Regions from separate parts of the Homo sapiens genome. Here region 2 is linked to region 1. Evidence: fine-mapped expression QTL. A gene starts in region 1. The other region holds a variant in brackets. All regions are shown on one strand. Distances are from middle to middle.

Region 1 (8,471 bases):
GAAAGGCAGGAGTGTGGCAGAACTGGGAGGATGGAGAGCCATGGGGGAGTGTGGTGGTTGTCCAGTAACCCTAGCTATGGCCAAGAGAGTGGGGTGGGGGTTGGAGGAAATAGGGCTTGTGGGGATGCACAGGAAGCTAAGAGAGAGGTGAGGCATGACCCTGGGAGTTGGGAGAGGCCAGGGCGGGGAAGGGCATCGGCCTACCTAAGTTACATTGCCCTGCTGTGTGAGAGGAAGTCAGTTGCACATTAAGGAAATGTTGCAGCTGGTACTAAATTGGGAGGTGTCACAGGCAGCAGCGAGGACAGGTATGATTCGTGGGGCCCTGTGTGGCCTGAAACGGGGGCAGATATTGCAAAGGCAGAGAACAGGGTTTCTGGGGCCACCCAGGGAAGAGCTAACTGATGCACTCAGTACAGGGTCCTGGGGACAGGGGGTCACCTGGCTCTGAAACAGAGGTTCCCAGCTTGGTTTCTAGAAGTAAGAAAGCCTCTTCATCTTGGCCTGGGGCTGTGGTCTCTCCACTCAGGAGAAGCTCTGAGGGTGGGGCGTCATCTCGCAGGGATCCCATTTGGGGTGGGGACCAGACAGGAGGGCTTGGAGCCCAGGAACGGGGTTTGGGAATGGCAAGTAAGGCCTGCCAGGGAGGTGGGGTGAGGGACTGAGGAGAGAGGAGCCTACAGTCCAAGTAGGGTAGCAGGGCTGTCTTTTCCCTTCGTGCCCATCATACAGCTGGATTCGAGAGCCAGGTGGGTCTGGCCTCAGTTGAGGGAGAGAGCATTGGACAAGGGTGGGAAAGGCCGGAAGAGAGCTATGGAGCTGGCACTGCCCTTCTGCCGGCACAGCAGGCAGCGAGAGCACAGGAGGAGTTCGCTGGTTTGCTGGAGAGAGACAGACAAGAAGACAAAGGAGAGGAGGGAGGGCCATCAGGAACTTGATGTGAGGCCATGGCAAAAGCACGAGGTTGGCACCAAAACACGTGGGCTGGAGTCCTGGCACTCCTGCTCATTAGCTGAGTGACCTTAGGGCAAACCATTTGATCCCCTTGCACCTGAGTTTCCTCATCTGTAAAATGGGAGTAGTGGTGCTAGTATCACCAGCCTCCTTGATCTCATAACACACACGAGAGGGGCGGAAAAACCTTAAGCATTACATTAATGTCAGATGTTATATTCTTATTACAAAATACATCTGCACCTTCTTCCCACAAAAGACCCAGGATGTGGGCAGAGCAAGGATGATGATCCCTGTTTTACAAATGAGGAAATGAAAGCTTACAGAAGTGAAGTGACTTGCCCAAGGTCATACCACTAACAAGAAGTAGAGGTGATAAGGCCTCCTGAACTGGAGAGATCAGATGTATTTCTCCTACGTCACACTGCTTGGTAAAAACAATCAACATGAGAGATTTGTATTTAGTTCAGGTCCAGACAGAAATCGGAGTCAACTACAACACGGAGAAAACCCCATGGGGAAGTTGTGGCATGCCTCTCATTCATACTGGTGATTGAGGAAAAAAACAAAACAAACAAACAAAAAACAGGGCCATGGGGTTGAAGGGAGGGCCACAAAAAACAGACATCCTTGATTCCATCTGCTTGTGGACCCTGTCTCTCTGCTCCCACTGAGTGTATGTGTCCGTGGCTGACATCGAGGGTATGTGTCTCTGTAAGACAAAATGTGCCCTTCTTCATGTGACAGTACTTCTGCCTGCGTGTCTCTGATACCATGGGGAGATGTGCGTGTGTGTGACACGGCATCTGCTTCTAATGACACTGTTTGTGGGTGTGACGACCTCTCTGCATGCCTATGTGACTTTGCCCGGGGTGGTGGTGATGGTGTATGGCAGTGTGTGTGTCTATCTGTCTGTATACCTTTAAGAAGTGGAATATCTCATTTGGTAGTGTGAGTGAGGCAGTGAGTCAGCTGAGGCTGAGGGAGGCGGGAGGGAGACTGCTAGGTTACGAGAGCAGGAAAAAGGAGAAGGAGAAAGTGAAGTCAGGAGCGAGGAACTACCCTTTTCCTTCCCAACCCTCTGCCCCAATCCCTAGGGAACCCGCTAAAAGCATGGAAGCCCTGCAGAAGTCCACAAGGGCCATGCTGGATGGAAAATGGCACTTTCTGCCCCTCCCCAAAGTCTTGGAGGGACACGAGCTAGGCTAGAAAGCAACTGTCTCACTCTCCAGCTCTTGGCCCCAGCTCGAGGATGTGTGAGGCCACCACCCCTCCTGGTCTCCTTGTCATCTGACCCTTTGACCTTGCTGTTCTCTTTCCTCCCAAAGGCAGGTCACCTGGCCAGGCTGGGCGAGCAGGGCAGTACCATCAAGTCCCAAATGTTTGCAGCCCTCACCCACCTAACTGTCCAGAGCAACCCCGCCGAGGGTCAAGAAGTTTCTTAACACTCAGCTCTTCCCTAGGCGGGCCGGTCTGCAGCTGCCTCACCTCTCCTCTGGATACCTATCCCCAGCAGCTAGAAAGCCAGTGTTCCCCCCACTGTCACCATGGGGTGCTGGGAAGGCACTGGGAGTTTTGTATGAGAATGCACTAACCTTCAGTGGCCTTCCCACCAGTCGCTGTTCCCTGTTCCCAGCTCCTTCCTTTGTCAGGGGAGAAGAGCCTGCAGGTGACTTCCTTGGGAGAAGACAGGCAGCCCCTGGGCTCGACCTGCCTCGGCTCTGGCCAGTCACCTCAGGTCACATAAGGTCAAGTGTGTGGTGTGCCCCACCACCAGGAGTGCTCGTCCTCTCACCCACTGGCAGAAGCCAAAGGGTGAGGGTTTGGTTGCCAAATATTCTTCCTCCCATCTTTGGCCTTCCCCCTGCACCAGCCAGTCCCAGGACGTTCAGTTCCAGCCTCTGAAAGGAGAGGGGCATGGCTGGCTGAGGATGGAGGCTGGGGGGAGCACAATCCCTCCTGCCACCTCATTGTCAGCCCAGGGCCCTGCGGCCCCTCCCCACTCATGAGGGAGCAGGGCGCCAGGAAGCCCCAGGCCTAAGGTGCCCAAACCCGGAATTAATAGAAGTTAGCCAGGTGGTTACCTGACCTGAATCCCTGAGGCCTCTTCACTAGGGAAGGTCCCAGGGTGGCACTGGTAGTGCTGCACTGGGCACGGTGGGAGTGGTGGGGTGGGTAGAAAGGGAGACTTCCTTTTTTCTCCCGGTCCCACTGCGGCCGCTGCCGCTGCCCAGGGCGGCTGCTGTGGCTGCGGAAGCCAGTCCTTACCTTACAGCCTTTCGTGCAGGACCGGATTGAGTACTCTTCCGCCTGTAAGTATTTATGCAGCACGAGGTCGAACTCGTCATATTTTTCCTGAGCGTGTCGGTCCAGCCGCTGGTACGCCTCGATACAGTTGCTACACGCCTCCCAGGCCCCGGAGCCCGGGCTGGCCACCACGGCCAGCAGGTCCCCCATCAGGGTGTCCAGGCTACAGTCCAGGCTGTCGGGGCGGTCCATGCCCAGCAGCAAGTCCCAGACCGTGTAGGTGTCGCAAAAGGAGAGAGTGAAGTTCCGAAAGTGGCCTTTGAGCAAGTTTTTTTTGGCGGAGGGGAACTCGGCCGGGGCACGGGAAAGGGAGTCAGGGGGCCGCAGAGGGGGGGCCGGAGTAGTCGGTTCGAAAAGTCTCTGCAAAGATTGCAATTTGGTGCAAGCTGCGTCCAGCCCCGTGGGCTCTGGGACGCCGCCGCAGACCGGCCGAGAGCCGGCGGCGGGGGCGGCTTTGGTCAGGTTGCTGTATCTGGGGCCGCAGGTGCCTGGGGGCGCGCTGGGCTCGCCGGGCGGCGGCGGCGGCAGCGGCAGCACCGCGCGAGGAGGCACCGGCTGCCGCTCCCGGCCGGCCCCCCATGGGGGCCGCATGGCGCTGCTCAGCTCCCTGGCCCGGGGCCGGGCCCCCGCGCACAGCCACAGATGGTCAGCGAGCAGCACGGTGAAGAAGAGCAGGGACGCCAGGGACAGTCGCCATCGCTGCGCCCGCTCGGAGTCGGCGCAAGGTTTGTCGCTCGGCCTGGGAGCCCAGCAGCAGCAGCAGCAGCAGATAGTCAGCGCGGCGGCGTCTTTCCCGGGCCACATCCAAGCGCCCCTGAACATATTTCAGGGGGGTCCGGGCTGGAGGGAACAGGCAGGCGCGAGGCCAGACGGCCGTCTGGGGCGGGCGGGCTGCGCGCCGCTCTGCGCTCCTCGGCGCCGTCCAGGCTCTACCTCGGGGGCTGCATGGTGAGGCAGGCCGGCCGGCGCGATGCCCCGCTCAGGCCGGAGTCGCGGGGCGCTCTGGTGCCGTCTCCGCGCCGCTCCCGCGCTCCGTCGCTCTCAGCCCGGGCGCCGCCGCCCGGCCCGCTAGGCGCTGCCCGGCGTCCCGGCTGGGGGCGGTGCGGGGCACTGGGGCGGTGGCGGCTGCGGCGGCGGCGCCGCACTCCTCATAGTGTCGGGCCCCTCAGCTGCCCTCGGCTCCGTGCCACTTCACTCCGCGCCGGCGGCCGCCCGGCTCGCACTCCAAACCGGCCGTCTCGGTTCGGCGCAGCTCTGCGCCCCTCAGCGCCGCCGTGCGGGCCCCGCCGCCGCGCTCCGCTCCGCTCCCCTCGCCCCGCGCCGCTCCGCTCCCGCCCGTCCGCCCGCTGCCCGCTCCACGCCGCTCCCTGCCTCGCTCGCGCCCTCCTAGGCCGGCCGGCCGGTCCGTTGCCGGGCCCTTCGGGCTTCGTTCGCGCTCCGGGTGTTCGCCGGGGCCAGTCCCTGGCGGGCTCCGCTCTGGCTCCGCACCCGCTGCTCCTGGAGTTCCGGCTCGGGCGGGCCACCTGGCTCCCGGCAGCGCCACAGGCGCCGGACGCAGACACCGGGCTTTACTTAGTGCGCCTCTCGCTTCCGCCTCTCGTTCGCACCGCTGTGGCTGCAGCCCAGCGGCACGGCCCCGTGGCTCCCGCTGGCCATGCACCCTCAGTCTGTCGCCATCTTCCGCTGTGCGGAGAACACCTTGAGAGCCCCTGTGCAAGTGTGTTTGGCGGGGAGCAGGGCGGAGAAAGAGGCACGGAGAGGAGGAGGGAGCGGGACTGGTGCCCCGACTGCGCCTGCGCCTCAGGACTCCCCCCACCCCACCCCGCCCCAGCCCCCGCCGGCCGCAGCCGGTGCTGTTTGGGGATGTTTCCAGTCCACCCCCAACTCCATTCACTTCAGCGCCTCCGTTCATCCGCCCGCTGCCCGCGTGCACATGCCACACGCTGAGTCCCAGGCCTCGGCGCTCCCCCTCCCCCACTAACCCGGGCGCCCGCCTTCCTCTCCATGGCCGTCCCTCACTCCCCCGAGGGCTAGGGGACTTCTGAGGGTGATTCTTGGAGGCAAGGAGCAGCAGGCATCTCGTAGCTGCTTGCTGCCTCTCTGGGTCGCCTCCGCCGTCCCCGTGACTGGAAGACGCTCGAGCCGGCTGCGGATCGGACCAGTCCAGTGTCCCTAACTCCACCTTCGCCCTCACCGTCCTGCCCGAGGACAAGGCGGCCCTTGGTGCTGAAGGACAGCTCCCAGCTTAGCTGCTGAGGAAGACTGAGTTTGGAGAGCGTCCTGGAGGGGGCAAGGCGGTGGGCTAAGATAGTAGTGGTGGGGTGTCGGTGTTTGCCCTTAGGAATATTTCCAGCAGCCTCCACCCCCCACCCGCCCGCCCCCCACCCAAGCACCAGCCCCCGTCCTAGCTTTTTGGCTCCCCCTACAGGCTGCTGAGAATAGCTGACTGAGAGTTAGAGAAGCTGCGCCGCCCGGATGGAACCATGTGCTTGGGCCCTCACAGAGTCACATGGCACTAGGAATTCGGACGTACAAACATCCTGACGCGCCACTAACCTTGTTTGGACTCCACTGACCCTGTGGTCTGCTTGCCTTCCTCACTCCCAGTAACTCACATTGTAATTTTTTGTCAACCGTTGCCGGCAAGCATTTGTTAATGTTAAGAATAACAATAAAGAAAATAGCCTTAATTGAGCGCGTACTATGTGCTAGGTACTGCTCTATACATTTTGCATGCATTCGTCATCCAATCTTCACAACAGTGTTATGAGATAGGTACTACTGTTATCTTCATTTACATACAAAGAAGCTGAGGTTTAGTGTGGTTGTTGCCTAAAGTAACCAGAGCAGCTAAAAAAGAAACTCAGTCTGACTCTAGAATTCTCTTAACACTCCAGTAAGGCCCTGGAAAGATGAAAGAGCCAAGGCATTCCTTCCTTAAAGGAAATTATAGTCTATATAAGGAAACAAGACATGTATATTGGCTAGTGGGAGGATTCATGAACTAGAGCCTTGGATAAATAACTCAACTGCTGATATGCTGTGTACCCTTGAGAGTCTTTTCCTTTTCTGAGTCTTGGTTTTCCCCTGAGTAACACGAAGGGATGCCAAGGATCAAATGAAATGGGTGGGCATCGTTAGCACTACTCAGAGGTGGACTGGGGTGGGTACATAAAAGGTTTCTGGAAGAGGGACAAATGGAGCTAGTTTCTAAAGTAGCAGGATTAGGGTGGGTGGTTGAGAAGGGCATTCCAAATAAAAGGAATGCAGATGAAAAGTTTCAGGGGTAGGGAGCAGCTTTGTATGTTTGTGAAGCCACGAGTGTGGCAGTTTGGCTATATTGATGGTGAGAATTTGTGGGGAAGGGAGTAGCAGGAAATGAGACAAGGGACAAAACTGTCAGGCATTTGGGAGGCCTATTTATTCATTATGTTACAAGCACTGTGCTAGGGGCTAAGTAGGATACTGCGGTGAATCAGACGGCCCTGCCCTTGAGGTGCTCACAGTTGAATTAGAGAGGCAGACATGTTAAAGAAGAAATTGCAACCTAGTGCAATAAGGATGGTAGGTGTCCCTCCCATAGAGGGAGGGACCAGTCAACTTTGCCAGATTCCCTCAGAGATGATTCTGCACACAGCCGCTGGAGTTGAGTCATTCATTCATTGATTCATTCCTTTGTCAAACATCTATTGAGGATCTATTACATTCTAGATGCTGTATTAGGCATCAGCAATATAGACATGAGTAAAATATGTGTCTTGAGCTGAAGGAGTTTAGTTGAAACCTTAAGGGATGAGTAAGGACCGGCTGGACAGGTAGCAAAGAAGGCGGTGTGTGAAGGATGTCCCAGGCAGTGGGAATGTTATGTGTAAAGGACCAGAAGTAACGCCAGGAATGGTACGTTCAGAAACCTGCAAAGTAGTTCATCATGACTAGGTGTGAAGTGGGAGCACTGCCAAAATGAGGCTGAGGATTTGGCAGGAGCCAAATCATGAAGGGCCCTGGGTGCCATGCTAAGTAGTTTGGACTTTATCCCAAGGGCACTAGGAGCCATGGAACAGGCCGAAAGGTTTTCAGCAGGAGGTGACACGATCAGACTTGTATTTTTAGAAGATTGATTTGACTGCAGCATGGAGACTGGATTGGAGGGAGTGAGACGGCAGGCAGGGAAACTAGTTGGGAGACTGGTTAGTAGTCAGGTGAGAGGTGTGGAGGGCTGAACAAAGGCAGCAGCAGTGGAGACAGAGAAAATAAATGCACATGGGAGGGAAATGAAAGAAGTAGAATTGAAAGGAGCTAGGAGGCAGGGCTAGAAAGAGGATGAAACCAAAGAGTTCCAGTTAGTGACACTGGCACGACTGCCCCTGCCCACCTAGGAACTGTCTTTCCTGAGCCATTCTTTGTTTAGTCCTTGGAGGGTTCAGTGTTCTAACAAAGAAAGCTAATCGCTTACAGATACCTAGTTCGGAGCTGATTGGCAGGGCCACAGTGATTGACACCCTTGACTGCCAATGAAAGAGCAGCCTGCCAGGTCTAGGCTATCAGCTCTGAGCACCTCTGGAGCTTTCTGTGAGAAGTCACTCAGGCAAGACTCCCTCCCTCTCCCCAAGCACACACAGGGTGAAAAGTGTCTCACAAAGGTCCATTTATCACAGGAGCACAATATAACAATAACTTACCCAGACAGTTCCCGCTGCACACAAAGAAGAAGTGCTAGCAAACCAACAGTCAGAAGAGGCTCTCATTCTCTAACTTCAGATGACCCAAGAAATTGGGATGGGGGAAGGGAAGGCATTGGCCTTAATCGGCCCCTGGAGCAGAATAGCCAAGGTGGGGAGGGGAACTGGAGTGGCCCGCTGTTCCCCCAGAGCTGGTGGGCCCTGGCCAGTCCTTCTTCTCAGCCCTTTCTTTCCACCTGCTCCCGGGTTAGTGGAGGCTAAAGCCAGGGGATGGAGGCGGGTCACTCCTGAGGGGGCCCAGACTGAACAAGAAGAGCAATAGAGTGCCCTCAAACCAGGCAGAGGGGAAGACAACTTGAGGGAGAGGGAGAAGGGGAAGGTTTCTTGCAGTGAAATGCTGACAATTAGGAAGAAGACAAAGTGGGAGCTGTTTAAAGTGACCAGTGTGGTTGCATCAGGAGCTTTCTGTTAAGCTCAGATCTTAAAAGGTCATGGGGGAAAAAGATGGAAAGAAGGGCATGTAATTAAGGG
Region 2 (8,471 bases), 720 kb before region 1:
GGATCTTACTCTGCCACCCAGGCTGGAGTGTAGTGGCGCAAACACAGCTCACTGCAGCCTCAATCTCCCAGGCTTAAGTGATCCTCCAGCCTCAGCCTCCTGAGTAGTTGGGACCACAGGTGCGCACCATCACGCCTGGCTAATTTTTTATTTTTTGTAGAGATGGGGTGTCACCATGTTGCCCAGGCTGGTCTTGAACTCATGAGCTCAAGAAATCCTCCCACCTCAGCATCCCAAAGTGCTGGGATTACAAGCATGAGCCATCATACCTGGCCATTTTTACTTTTTAATTTGGAATACTTTTAGATTTATGAGAGAGTTGCAAAGATAGTACAGAGAGTTCCCTACACCCTTCGTGTAGCTTCCCCTTTATGTTAACATCTTATAAAACAATGGTATATTTATCACAACTAAGAAACCAATATTGGTGCATTTATATTTACTAAACACCAGGTTTTATTTGTATTGTATCAATTTTTTTCCACAAATGTCCATTTTCTGTCCCAGGATCCCATTGGAATCTCACATTGCATTTAATCATCATCTCTCCTTTGTCTCCTCCTCCTTTGACAGTGTCTCTGTTTTTATTTTATTTTATTATTATTTTTTAACCACATACTCAGATTGGGTTAGTTTCTCGGTCTTTCCGTGACTTCCATGACTTTGGTGCTTTTGAAGAGTTTAAGTCGGTTCCCCCTCCATCCCTTTCCTTTCCTTATGCTTTAGCTATTGAAGAACCCACAGCATTTGACCTGTAGAATTTCCCACAGTTTGGATTTTGCTTATCTCATACTTACTTAGGGTGCTTCAGCATGTTCCTCTGTATTTCTTGCAGATTGATAGCTGGATTCAAAGACTATAGTGATTCAGATTTGATCCCTTTGTCAAGATCTTAATTTTCTTTTAATATAGAACAATCTCCCTTCCTCCCCTCCTTTTTTTCCCATGCCACTGACTTAGTGAAGACTGTTTTTCTTTGGAGTAAGCCAGTCTTCCAAGCTTCTGTGAGCAGGGTTGGGGTGTGGAGTGTGATTCCTAGGTGAGTCTCAAATACAGGCCAACGTGGGAGGGGGGAAGCAAAGCCCTCATTTCTCTCTTGAACTCTTGTTGTAACTTTATGCCCATTAAAGCAAACGTGGTTGTGTGTGTGTGGTTTTTGGTTTTGTTTTTTGCTTTTTCCACCTGAAGTTTACATGCTTCTAAAGAGATTGGGACCATATCTTATTTGTCAGTATATCTGCTCCTAATGCCTGAAAGCCCTAGGGCCTCGGCGTTAAGAGAAGGATCAGTAAGTGAGGATCTTAGTTTGGGGTCTATGATTGGATGATTTCTTACGGGTAATGAGATCACTAGAGTCCTATGGGGGCATATGTCCCGGGGACTTGAGTGGGGGATGAGAGGCCATACAGAAACAAGACAAGGAACACATTACAAAAGGGGAGAAGAAAGAATGAGAGAAAGGAAGGCAGACGCTCACCTTTGAGGCACTTTGGCAAAAGAAAAAGTTCTGCCTACTTTGCCCTCCCACTCCAGGTCTTCCTGTTTACTGGAAACCAGCCTGGCTCTAGAGCAAATGTTAGCACTCAGGTCTTACGGCACCACTGCCCTATCGATGTGTTGACATCCTGTGGTTGAGGTTGGAAACTCGCCCCTGATAATATGGGGGAGATTAGCACTCTGTCTTTCCAGAATAGAATATCCTGGGCCTACACCAACTCCCTCTTCATACTCTCTCATCCTTGTAAATTGTCTTCTCCAGGAAGCAAGCCTCCTGGGTTAACTTTTAATAATATGTGAATTCTCAGTTTTTCTCCTCTATTTCCTCCTGCCTCCCTTGGAAAAAAAAGTAAGTAAGTTGTTGAGAAGACCTTCAAGCTAAGAGAGTTGACCTGTATATATATTTTTCTTTTTAGCACTAGATCCCAACCATTGCCTTAGTACTTTAACGTTTACAATGCCATGGATCTCCACATGATAATACGTAACAAACTAAAGCCACTATGTATATACATCATGACAGTATTTATATGCATTTGAAAGAAAAGTGTGCTGTAAGCATATTATTTATTCATTCTAAACAATGCTCGGGTCAGGTAGAGGTTTCTGGAGTCCTTGTAATAATTAAGTTACTCCTCCACTCCTCAGAGGTTTGCACCTCCAGGTTGGAAACAATGGCTTTCTTGCTTTTTTCCAAAACGGAAATTTATTTCCTTTTTTTTCTGATTATGAAAATAATCCATGTAAATCATAAAATTTTCAGAGCACTCAGAAAAGTATAAAGGGAACAAAAGTCATTCATAATCTCACTACCCAGAAATGACCACTGTTAACTGTTAACATCCTGGTATCTATCTTTCTTGACTTTTTGTCTATACAAATATAAGCATAGGTATAGAGTCCCTGTTAAGAGTTCGGGCTCTTGAGTCCAACATATCTAAGTCTATGTCTCAGCTCTGCCACTTAAGTGAACTATGGCAGATGATTTAATCTCTTAGTGCCTCCGTTTCCTCATAAGTAAAAAGATACTTATAATACCCACATCACAGAGTTGTCAAGAAGTTAGAATAATTCATGTGAAGCATTTTGATCAGTGCCTTGCTCATATATATGATCATATTAAAAGCTCGATACATGTTAGTTACTATATATATTAACCAAAATGGGATTATATTCTATGTCCCATTTTGTAACCTGCTTTTTCACCCAAAAGTATATCGTGGACATTTTTCATGTCAATCTTCTTCTGTAACATTATACATAGCATTTCATTGTATGGATATGCTATAATTCATTTAACCAATCTCCTATTATGGAGGAAGCACTTATTTTTAGACATGTCTCTTTCACACTCTGGTCAGATCTTTAGCTCTTTTAATGGTAGGTGAAATGTCACTGATCAGAAACCCTCCTATACTTGGAGCCTTCTCAATGGCAATGCTGTGTCCTCTCCCCCAGCACTTCCTAGGAGTTAGTGGTACAGAAAGTGAAATGCATTCTTTTTTCTTTTTTTTTTTTTGAGACAGAGTCTCGCTCTTGTGCCCCAGGCTGGAGTGCAATGGCATGATCTCGGCTCACTGCAACCTCTGCCTCCTGGGTTCAAGTGATTCTCCTGACTCAGCCTCCTGAGTAGCTGGGATCACAGGTGTGTGCCGCCACACCTGGCTAATTTTTGTATTTTTAGTAGAGACGGGGTTGCACCATGTTGGCTAGGCTGGTCTTGAACTCCTGACCTCAACTGATCCACCCGTCTTGGCCTCCCAAAGTGCTGGGATTACAGGCATGAGCCACCACGCCCGGCCTGTGAAATGCATTCTTAAGCTTCCATCAACCTGGGTAGGTTCCAGGGACCAGGTAGCCAGGTTAGCAGAATCAGCCTCTCTCTCCAAGGAGATGACCATGTCTGAACAAAGGGCTTGATTTTCTTCTCCAAACAACTCAGGAAGCATAGCTATGGTCTGAATGTGTCCCCCAAAGTTCATGTGTTAGAAACTTAATTCCAAATACAATGCTGTTAAGAGGTGGGCCTTTAAGGGATAATTAATGTCATTATCACAGGAAGGGGCTAGTTATCATGGGAGTAGGTTCTTTATCACAAGAGGGGATTCATTATAAAAGCGAGTTTGGCGCTTTCTTGCTCTCGCTCTTGCTCTTCTGCCTTCTACCATGGAATGACTCAGTAAGAAGACCCTCACCAGACGCAGGCCCCTTAAGTTTGGACATCTCAGACCCCAGAACTAGAAGAAATAAATTTATTTTCTTTGTGAATTACCCAGTCTGTAGTATTCTGTTATGGCAACACAAAATTGTCCAAGACAGCAGGTTTCATGAAGGCCCACAGTATCCTACTAGACCTGGCAGGGCTGTTGTTTGGATTCACCTCAGTTAAATTGAGGAAATGTTTAAATAAATGCAAGCTAAGTCCAGGGCTGAGGTGAAGCCTGGAAAAATGGGACTTGTAAGTCCCATCACTGAGGTCAGCCTGTACCCAGGACAAACTAGGTAA[G/A]AAATCTGTTGTTTCATCAGTGTCTTGGCTTCTAGGCTTTTCTATTGTTTTGTTTTCCTTTTGAGAAAAATTCAGTCAGCTCACCTGAACTAATGATTAGTGTTTTACAATTTCCTAGGCCAGAATGTCTGGGGCATCCAGGGATTTTCTTGGTATCTGGGTGGTCCTGGCCACCCTTCCTGAATGACATATTTTTAAAAAAGTAATAGCTAAAAGAAAACCTGGGAATGTGGAGAACTGGTTGTTAGTAAGGACATGATCCTTTCCTTTTGTTTTTGTTTTCTTAATGTGACATCAAGAAATTGTAGTAATCGTAATCCTTGGCGAATGACATACTTTCATTGTTTTATGAATGTCCTTCTTTTCTATCTATGTATCCATGTATCTATGTATCTATGTATCTGTGTATCTATCTATCTATCTACCTACCTACCTACCTACCTTTATTGATCCAGGTTTTTCCAGTTGGAATTTCCCTCTCGAGCACTACACATGTAAAGTACTGTCTTGCCCCTGGATCACAAGTTAGCCGCTAGTTATCTGGCCTTGGTCTTCGCTTTCTTCTCTGAGAGCTGAAGGTATCTTCTTGATGCTACAGCTTTGGTAATAGAATTCTTCTTTCCCTTATCTTCAGTCCCTGGCCTGTAAGCATTCATCAGAGCAGATTCAAACTCTCAAGTGAGTTCTGTCATAATAGGATGTGGGCAGCAAATAGCTAAAATAGGTCACGGAGGATGAAGAGGTGTCAACATTCTCCTAAGCCAATGTTTGGTCATATGAGGATCTAGGTATCAAGACACAACTTGATGTTCTAAGATCTGGAAGGTCAGCAAGTAGGGAGGTCAAGGCAAAAATAAACCAAGAGGGAAGGCCACTCCAAAAAGCGGCAAAGCCAGTGGAAACCACCCAGGCCTAGTCCTAGGTCAAAGGTTAGTGGATATCAAAAGGGCAAGTGATCTTGGTCTCTCTGTCTGGATGATTAGAACAATCAGACAGGAGTCTTGCCATTGTCACACCTGCTTTGACATGCTGGGCCAAGCTGTCATGCAGTGTCACTGGCTAACCTCAGCTTATACCCAAGTTACCCTACCTGCCTCTGGCTTTCTGCCTTTTCATTTTAAACATGTTTTTGTGCAAAACAATTGGATGAATTCATGCTGTAGGGTGTGTGTGTGTGTGTGTGTGTGTGTGTGTGTGTGTGTGTGTATAACTAGCCAAGGTAGGGGCAGCAAAGATCGAGGATTTAATGCAGTGTGATAGCTGCAGGAGTGAAAACCATGGTGTGCAAAGAATCTCTCATATCACAGAATGTGGCTAGGCAAATGCTATCTGGCAAGCTGCTTCCGTTTCTCCAACATGACTGAACTGTGAGGGACTGAGAACCCATCAGTCTGAAGGGCAATGGTTTATTGGCTGCAAACTCTCCGGGGCCTAGGCACCCACCAGGGACTCTTTCTCATTCATTCTCAAGTCCAGGAATGGCTGCCTGTGCCCACTGGGTAACAGCCATTCATCTCATACATTATATCCTTCATAAGTAGTTAACCCCATTGGCCCCTCGATGTTTCTGGAAGATCTTAGTTTCCCACTCTTTTCACCTTTGGTGTCAGAGAGACTACAAGGGACATCAAGATCATAAAACTGGGCTGGGCGTGGTGGCTCGCACCTGTAATCTTAGCACTTTGGGAGGCCGAGGCAGGTGGATTACTTGAGGTCAGGAGTTCAAGACCAGCCTGGCCAACATGGTGAAACCCCATCTCTACTAAAAATACAAAAAATTAGCTGGACATGGTGGTGGGCGCCTGTAATTCCAGCTACTCGGGAGGCTGAGGCAGGAGAATCACTTGAACCCGGAGGCGGAGGTTGCAGTGAGCTGAGATCACGCCATTGCACTCCAGCCTGGGCAACAAGAGCGAAACGCCATCTGAAAAAAAAAAAAAGAATCATAAAATTTTTCATCTTATCTTCTGGGAGAAGTAGCTGGTGTGGCTTGATGTTTCCAAGGCTTCGTCTTTATCTTCTAAGAGATGGCATGCTTGCCAAAGTTACTGTAGCTGCTGGGGCTGCGGGCAGAGAGGGATACCCTTCACTGCAGGGTAGTGGGGAATTACATAAACTTTTATTGTCCTTAATATGTTCTCAAAACTAAACTAAACTTAGTGTATGGTTTATTCAACCTCTGGGAATGAGAAAAACATCTTTTATGCCCCAAAGCTGTGACCTGTTACATAGAGGAGGCAGGGAGACCTAGAAGGAGTCAAGACCTACAAGCTGAGCCAGAGGTTGCAAACTCAAATGTCTCTAGGGATCAGAGATATAGAGATGAGGGAACCAGGCTGAGAGTTGTAACAAGGAATGGTGGGGAGTATGTTGACCCAGAGAGGGCGTGTTCCTTCTAAAGGCCTTCAAATTTAGTTTCTCCAACTATTTTTAGAAAAAACTTCAAACATACAGGAAGGTTGAAAGAATAGTATAATAAACAACTGTATATCATCTACCTCTCAAATTCAACAATTAATATTGTGCATATTTATCTCTCTGTACATATATGCATATGTACATGTATACATGTATACATGTTTTATGTGGACAGCACGGTTATGGTTGTTTTTAAATTTGAAATGGTTCAGAAAAACAAGACACACATACATACATATATGCATCTGACTTAAGAAATAGATGCTACCAGTAGTTTCTAAGGCCCCTGTGTGCCTGTCCCTGTTCTCATTCCCCCGTGCCCTCCCCTACCATGAGTAACTGATGTGTTTGTCTATTATTCCCTTGATTTTATTTACAGTTCCATCACATATGTATGTCTCCTTAAACAATAAAACATTTAGGTTTGTCTGCTTTTGACATAGAAACATTACACACACACACACACACACACACACACACACACACACAGTATTCTTCTGTTACTTGATTGTTTTCACTCAACACTATGATTTTGATACTCATCTTTGTTGACATACGCAGCTCTGCTTTTTGTATTCCATTGTATGAATATGGATGTACCACAGTTCATTCATCCATGTTCTTATTGATGGACATTTATATTGGTTTTTGCTATTATGTACATTGCTTCTAGAACATTCTATTTTATGTCTTCTGGTGCTCATGTGCAAAAGTTTCTCTAGGATCTATAACTAAGAGTGGAACTGCTGGGTCATATGGTCTGTGTGTATTCAATTGTACTAGAGCATACTAGATTGTTTTCCAAAGTGATTGTATCAGTATATGCCTTTGCCAGAGTGTGAGAGTTCACATTGCTCCATATCTTCTCTAACACTTGGCTTTAACTAACTTTAAAATTTTTGCCAATCAGTTTAGTGTGAGATGCTACATTGCTGTGGTTTTAATGTGCATTTCCTTAATTACTAATGAGTTTGGGTGTATCAGTTCATATGTTTATGAGCAATATTTCTTCTGGAAAATTCTTGTCTATGTTGTTATTGATTTTTCTATTGGTTGTTTTCCTCTTATTGATTTGCAGGAGCTCTTGATATATTCCACATATTAATCCTTTGTCAGTTAGGTGCTGGAACTGTCAACATACCAATGTGTGGTGGGGTATGGAGGACATAGCCTCCAGAGCCAGACTACGTGGATTCAAATCCCAGCTCCACTTTTTACTAACTGTAAAAGATCTCGCACAATTTAACCTCTCTGTGCCTCAGTTTCCTTAACCCCTTTGAGCTTCTTTGTTCTCATCTGTGGAGTACCTAATTCATAAGTTATGATGATGATTAATTGATTTAATATGTGTAAAGTACTTAGAATGGTGCCTGGTAATCAAGACATAGCTATTTTAAAAAAAGCTTTTATTTTAGGCTCCGGAGTACATGTGCAGGTTTGTTTTATAGGTAAACTCATGTCACAGGGGTTCGTTGTACAGATTATTTCATCACCCAGGTACTAAACCTAGCACCCATTCGTTATTTTTTCTGATCCTCTCCCTCCTCCCTTCTTCCACCCACAAGTAGGCCCCAGTATCTGTTTGTGTCCATGCGTTCTCATCATATGGCTCCCACTTATAAGTGAGAACAAAGGCATAGTTTTAAATAAAATGCTCCTCTGAGAGTAGGGATTTAAAGAAAATTTATAAAGTAACTTTTATTTTGTTACAATGTTTTCTCTTTTAAATTTCTAACAAAGTAATAAATTCAAGTGATAAAAAATAAAATAGTACAGAGGGTTTATGATGAAAAGGAACAGTTATCTAACCCTGTCTCCACTTCCTAAGGGAAAATAATTTTAACTCATTTTGGTATTAATTCTGGTGATTATCTCCCTAAGTCTAAACAATATGCTTTGATCTGTTCACTGATGTATCTGAAGGGCTGTTGACAATGCCTGGCACATAGTAGGTGCTCAATAATATTTGTTGAATGAATTCTCCTTTTCCTAGTTGGTAGATTGTCTTTTCACTTTTTATTTATTTATTTATTTATTTATTTGAGAGAGA

Evidence for each region. PIP is the estimated chance that this variant, and not a neighbour inherited with it, causes the effect.
Region 2: its variant is fine-mapped to the expression of NALF2 in breast (GTEx, PIP 0.96).

Annotation. Positions count from the first base shown.
Region 1 is chrX:69,500,895-69,509,365 of GRCh38, reverse strand. NALF2 (NALCN channel auxiliary factor 2) reads right to left here and starts at 5,040. Exons shown (of 3, transcript NM_015686.3): 1 at 3,223-5,040. The coding sequence starts at 4,083. RefSeq lists an enhancer at 2,483-2,982 and a silencer at 3,914-4,087.
Region 2 is chrX:70,225,013-70,233,483 of GRCh38, reverse strand. No RefSeq gene overlaps it. Among named protein-coding and RNA genes, the nearest start is that of AWAT1, 5.4 kb to the left of the region's middle. The variant G/A (reference allele first, on the strand shown) is at 4,004.